Linked DNA regions of Homo sapiens. The protein of the gene in region 2 purifies or fractionates together with the protein of the main gene of each other region. This does not show direct contact. Each region holds a gene or a part of one and is shown on either strand. Other genes may lie near its edges.

Region 1 (3,500 bases), on a different chromosome or scaffold from region 2:
TATTACTCATCTTCCCTTCCTTTCCTAGACTGTTTAACTCCTCCTCTTGTTTACATTCTCCATTCCCATTCCTTCACCTCTCATTTCTGATTCCATTTCTTCAAGGAAATATATATATTTTTATGTTCTGGCTATTTTTTCCTGCCACTATGTGTCCACACCACTGGTGTCCAAACTTTCATTCATGTATCCCTATCAGTAAAATGTTTCAGATTATGCTTCTGTTATGTATATAATACATTATATACATGAACTGATACGTTGTATACATTATATATGGCCACATGTGCATATAATACACATAACGTGCATTATATGCATATATAATATGTTATCTGTAAAGTAACATTGTACACACACAAAATGGAGCTTAAGGAAGGACGAACTAAAATAAATGGAAATGAAAATTCTAATATTTTCAGTTTCTTCCTCCACCGTTAAAGAATTGTCTTGCATGGCTGCCCTACATTGGTGATCAATGGTTTAGAATTCAGTCTTTCACCTGAGTGTCAATTGCACATAAGCATATAGTTGGAAAAGGTGTTAATTTTTAACAGCTCTAGTCTGATGATAGTAGTTACAATGCAGTGATAACAAATTTAGAACAAGCCATCTCTGCTTGTACATGTGATTAAAGCTGGGCATGTTCTGTCTCTTAATAGAAGTGTGGGCTTGGAAGCCAGTCATGGCTCTGTTTGATGCTTTGATGCAGACTTGCCTGGGTGAACTTCAAACAGTTATCAGAACTTAGCTTCACTTTAAATTAATGTCTTCATATTTTTGAGACATGATAATTTACCTCTGTAGGTGGCATATGGAAAAAGTAGGCACAACATACAAGGACCCTCAAATGAAAGGCAAATAATAGCAGTAATTGTATGATCTTGGAAATGCACACAGCATGATTTGTGGTTTGTAAACCACTATTTTATCTTCTGTGTGTTTGTTTTTTTGAGACAGGGTCTTGCTCTGTCACCTAGGCAGTAGTGCGCTCACAGGTCACTGTAGCCTCAACCTCCTGGGCTCAAGTGATCCTTCCACCTCAGCCTCCTAAGTAGCTGGGACTACAGGTGTATGCTACGACATATGACTAATTTTTTTGTTTTCTTTGGAGATGGGGGTTTCACTGTGTTGGCCACGCTGGTCTCAAACTCCTGACCTCGGATGATCTGCCTGCCTTGGCCTCCCAGAGTGCTGGGATTACAGGCGTGAGCCACCGCATCCGGCCCCAAATTGATAATTTTAAAGGCTACATAATATACCATCATATAGATGTGTTGTAATTTAGCAATTTCCCTTTTGTTGAGCATAATATTGGGGAAAATTGGAAGCAGTTGTAAGTAACATGCCATGAACATCCATATACTTAAGACTGTAGCCTCCATTTCTGTTTTCTCAGGATGAATTCTTAGATATGCAGTTGCCAGATCAAAAGCATAAAGTCTTTGAAAGGTTTTTAGTAAATTTAGATTATACAAGTCAAATTGGCTATTACATGGGGTAGTATATGTAGATAACTTGGTAGATATTGGGTATTTGATTAATGGTAATACTATTATGAAGCCATTCAGATGTAATTCCAAATGTTTTGTGGCCGGTTTATGGTCCTTATTTTATCTTTATTCTTTATATTTTAGAGATGGGATCTCGCTCTCGCCCAGGCTGGAATGCAGTGTTGCAATCACAGCTCACTGTATCCTCAACATGTTGGGGTCAAGGGATCCTCCCAAGTAGCTGCGACTTTTTTTTTTTTTTTTTGAGACGAGGTCTTGCCAGTGCTAGGCTTGAACTCCTAACCTCAAGCAGTTCTCCTGCCTCTGCCTCCCAGAGTGTTGGGATTACATGTGTGAGCCACTGCACCTGGCCTACTAGTTTATGTTCTGTAATGCTAGAAATTTATTGTTAAGCTTTTTGTTAATAGAAGGCTCTCATTCAGAGACCAGAAAACACCTGACCTCATGCTTAAAAGTTCTGAAGTTTTATTAATTAGTCTATTGTTAAATGTTGATTAAGATTATAATTCAGTCTCTGGGGTGCCTCCTCTGGAGTAAGTACCAGCAGTTGTGCCAGTTTTGCTGATTAAGACTCATAGCTGTATACATTTTCTTGTTGTATGTTCTTATAACTGGCAAAACTTGAATTTTGGGCTTTGTAGCTGTTGAGTTGGGTAACATGAATGGTGGAAGGATCAAGAATGCCGGCAGCGGATCCCCTTTTGTTTTTATTGGTAGAGATTTGAAGCCATGTCTAATAGATACTGAATGTTTGGTTGGAAGATCACATGGATTTATTTTGGGACTTTTGCTGCAAAATAATTGTCTTTCTTGGACTCTTAAGCCTATTTAAACAAAAAGAAATCAGTTCTTTGTGGCAATTACAATTTTAGCTAAGCTTTAGTTGATCTCATTTATGTCCTTAGATTAAAATGGAGCACAGCTGCTGCTTCGTCAGTGTGAGGAACGTGTGCGCCTCACCCAGGTTCTTCAGTCTAGTGTTTCCAGGAAATTGGCGCTGAAGCAACATTTCATATTTCATAGACATGCTCAATGTGGTGGTTATCTAGATTTTACATTTTTATTGTTAGATCATGCTGCCTTCCTTTAAAAAATGCTATTGTCTGCTGAGGAAATATTGTGGCAACTAAGCAGTGATGGAGTGAAGTATGGCATCTGTGAAGTGGGAGTCAGAGCGGGCAGTTGGTGGTGTTTCTTCATGTCCAGGGCATGGGGATGCGTTGAGCAGTGGACAGTATTTTGATCCTCTTAGTGGATAGAGTCTCTTAGTGGCAATGGATGGCTTAGTAGTACTTGTTAAAATCACCCAGCTAATTCACCAGGCCACTTTAGGGTTATGTTCGGGAAAGCTGTATATGATACTCCTGGAGTAATGGGCTTTGAAATTAGACAGTTCCAATTGCAGTTTTCTTCTTCTTTTTTTTTTTTTTTTTTTTTTAAGAGACAAGATCTTATTCTGTTGCCCAGGCTGGAGTGCAGTGGTACAATCATAACTCACTGCAACCTCGAACTCCTGGGCTCAGGTGATCCTCCAGCTTCAGTCTCCCAAATAGTTGAGACTACAGGCATATGCTACCATGCCTGGCTTATTATTATTATTATTATTATTATTTTAGAGATGGGGTCTTGCTGTATTGCCCAGGCTGGCTTTGCATTCCTGGCCTCAAATGATCTTCCTACCTCATCCTCCCAAAGTTTTGGAATTAAGGCGTGAGCCATGGCACCCAGCCTGCATAGGATCATTTTGATTCTCCTGAGTTTGCTTCCTCCTTGTAAATAAATAAATTTTCTCTTATAAATAGTTAGTGGCCGGGCGCAGTGACTCACGTCTGTAATCCCAGCACTTTAGGAGGCCAAGGCGGGCAGATCACAAGGTTAGGAGATCGAGACCATCCTGGCTAACATGGTGAAACCCCGTCTCTACAAAAAATACAAAAAAAAAATTAGCCGCTTGTGGGGGCAGGTGCCTGTAGTCCCAGCTACTCA
Region 2 (3,500 bases):
ATTATGGACATGATTAAAGCTTGGTTCAGCAGAAACAAGTTTCTGTATCCTCAGCCGCAGGATTCAATGGCATTTTTATACTGATCGGGAATCTGTTGTTACAGGGAAGAGTGACCTTCGAGGATGTCACTGTGAACTTCACCCAGGGGGAGTGGCAGCGGCTGAATCCCGAACAGAGAAACTTGTACAGGGATGTGATGCTGGAGAATTACAGCAACCTTGTCTCTGTGGGTAAGGACGGCTTCCCGGGCAGGGGGACTCAAAACCTAAGGCGTGAAACACACAGACACCCCATGGCTGGCCAAATAGGGTTGGCACAGAGGTGCTCCTCACTTCGCATATGTTTTTGTAGAGCCGGGACTAGGGTGAGGCAAGTGAAGTGTACCAAGTGCTGTATTGAAGGAGCCCCCATTCTCAGGGTCGGCAAGTGCCGGGAGAATGAGTGAGGGCCTCTGTAAGTTTTGTGGGCTGGGTGCCCTGCCCTTCACCCTACTCCTGGTCTTGATTTTTGGAAAAGCTTTATCCTCCAAGAAGAAAAAGCATTTCTTTCTTTCCCTTCCTTCCCTCCCTCCCTCCCTCCCTCCCTCCCTGCCTCCTTCCCTTCCTCCCTTCCTACCTCCCTTCTTTCCTTCCTTCCTTCCTTCCTTCTTTCCTTCCTTCCTTCCTTCTTTCCTTCCTTCTTTCCTTCCTTCCTTCCTTCTTTCCTTCCTTCCTTCCTTCTTTCCTTCCTTCTTTCCTTCCTTCCTTCCTTCTTTCCTTCCTTCCTTCCTTCCTTCCTTCTTTCCTTCCTTCCTTCCTTCTTTCCTTCCTTCTTTCCTTCCTTCCTTCCTTCTTTCCTTCCTTCCTTCCTTCCTTCCTTCCTTTCTCCCTCCCTCCCTCTCTCCATTCCTCTCTCTTTCTTTATCTCCTTTCTCCTAACAGGGTCTGGCTGTGTCACCGAGGCTGGAGTGCAGTGGTGCAATCATAGCTCACTGTAGTATTTTTTTTTTTTGGAGACAGTCTCGCTCTGTCACCCAGGCTGGAGTGCAGTGGTGTGATCTCGGCTCACTGCAACCTCCGCCTCCCAGGTTCCAGTGATTTTCCTGCCTTAGCCTCCCGAGTAGCTGGGATTACAGACGTGCACCACCATGCCTGGCTAATTTTTGTATTTTTTGCACAGATGGGGTTTCTCCATGTTGGTGAGGCTAGTCTTGAACTCCTGACCTCAGATAACCGGCCCGCCTCAGCCTCCCAAAGTTCTGGTATTACAGGCATGAACCACCACGCCTGGCGTCACTGCAACATTGACCTGGGCTCAAGCCATCCTCCCACCTCAGCCTCCTGAATAGCTGGGACCACAGACGTGCACCACCACACGTGGCTTTGGTTTTGTAGAGACTGGGTCTTGCTATCTTCATGTTACATGTAACATGTTGGTCTCAAATTCCTGTGCTCTAGCAATTCTCCTATCTCGGCCTCCCAAAGTGCTGGGATTACAGGCATGAGCCGCCACACCCAGCCCAGAAAAAGCATTCTTTGTTTAGTTCGACTGCTCAGGTGCATTCCCTCAAACCATCCATCCACACAACTCCCCCCAACCAATGGCACATACCCACACACTGACATATAAATGCTCACACTCACACACAAATATTCACACAAGCATACGCAAGCGCTTATATACACTCATACACTTGCACAAACAACTCACACATCCACAAACACCAAGCCTTGCGGTATCTTCCATCACAGGACAAGGGGAAACCACCAAACCCGATGTGATCTTGAGGTTGGAACAAGGAAAGGAGCCATGGTTGGAGGAAGAGGAAGTGCTGGGAAGTGGCCGTGCAGGTAGGTGACCAGGAGAGCACTGTGGGTCAATGGTGCATGGAAGCCAATTCAGCTTTTCTAAATGAGGAAGTCGTTTGGCAGCCAGCTGTGACTTCCTGGGAGTGCTGGAAGAAATCTCCAGGTATTTTTCTCCACTCAGAAATTTCTTTACATTCTTATCTGGGTTTTCCTTTGCAGGCAAACTCTTTTTTTTTTCTTTTTTTTTTTTTTCTGGAAACGGAGTCTCTGTCGCCCAGGCTGGAGTGCAGTGGCGCGATCTGGGCTCACTGCAACCTCCGCCTCCCGAGTTCGAACGATTCTCCTGCCTCAGCCTCCCGAGTAGCTGGGATTACAGGCACTTGCCACCATGCCCGGCGAATTTTTTGTATTTTTAGTAGAGACAGGGTTTCGCCATGTTGGTCAGGCTGGTCTTGAACCCCCGACCTCAGGCAATCCACCCGCCTCAGCCTCCCAAAGTGCTAGGATTACAGGTGTGAGCCCCTGTGCCTGGCCTGGCAAACTCTCTTTCTTAATCTCCCTCTCCCTGGTATCCCTAGGCTCTCACCTGCTCCCTGTGCACTAGGTCTACGTTGCTCAGTCCTTTACAGACAGATATGTGATAGCTTCATGTAACATTAGCTCACATAGAACTCTAACAGAGCTTATATTAACTTTGGTTTCTCGTAGACATTAGGTTTGAAGCCAGAATAATCACCACAATAGATTGTTTATGGCATTTTATTTCAAGCATGTGAGTGGAACGTTTTACACAGGACATTTTTTTGTATTCCATTTTAGAAAAAAATGGGGACATTGGAGGGCAGATTTGGAAGCCAAAGGATGTGAAAGAGAGTCTCGCAAGAGAAGTCCCATCAATCAATAAGGAAACGCTGACTACGCAGAAAGGTGTAGAATGTGACGGATCTAAGAAAATACTTCCACTGGGCATAGATGATGTATCTTCCTTGCAACACTATGTACAAAATAATTCTCACGATGATAATGGATACAGAAAATTAGTTGGCAATAATCCATCCAAATTTGTAGGACAACAACTGAAATGTAATGCCTGTAGAAAGTTATTCAGTTCAAAGTCACGCCTTCAAAGTCACCTGAGGAGGCATGCCTGTCAAAAACCCTTTGAATGTCATAGCTGTGGAAGAGCATTCGGGGAGAAGTGGAAGCTTGATAAACATCAGAAAACTCACGCAGAGGAAAGGCCCTATAAATGTGAGAACTGTGGAAATGCCTACAAGCAGAAGTCAAATCTCTTTCAACATCAGAAAATGCATACTAAAGAGAAACCCTATCAGTGTAAGACATGTGGAAAAGCCTTTTCCTGGAAATCATCCTGCATTAATCATGAGAAAATTCATAATGCCAAGAAATCCTATCAGTGTAATGAATGTGAGAAATCCTTCAGGCAGAACTCAACCCTCATTCAACATAAAAAAGTTCACACTGGACAAAAACCCTTTCAATGTACGGACTGTGGAAAGGCTTTCATTTACAAGTCAGATCTTGTGAAACACCAGAGAATACACACGGGAGAGAAACCCTATAAATGTAGCATATGTGAGAAGGCCTTTTCCCAGAAATCCAATGTCATCGATCATGAGAAAATTCACACTGGGAAGAGAGCTTATGAGTGTGATCTATGTGGAAATACCTTTATCCAGAAGAAAAACCTC

What was found. Proteins that work in one complex are often made in the same cells at the same time.
Region 1: the proteins of ZIM3 (region 2) and DDI2 purify together in Homo sapiens (co-immunoprecipitation; one large-scale study listed by IntAct). This does not show direct contact.

Annotation. Positions count from the first base shown.
Region 1 is NC_000001.11:15,620,458-15,623,957, forward strand, and holds part of DDI2 (protein DDI1 homolog 2), read left to right. Parts: intron 1-3,500. UniProt on the Homo sapiens protein: Aspartic protease that mediates the cleavage of NFE2L1/NRF1 at 'Leu-104', thereby promoting release of NFE2L1/NRF1 from the endoplasmic reticulum membrane.
Region 2 is NC_000019.10:57,135,203-57,138,702, reverse strand, and holds part of ZIM3 (zinc finger imprinted 3), read left to right. Parts: intron 1-104; coding exon 105-231; intron 232-1,731; coding exon 1,732-1,830; intron 1,831-2,607; coding exon 2,608-3,500. UniProt on the Homo sapiens protein: May be involved in transcriptional regulation.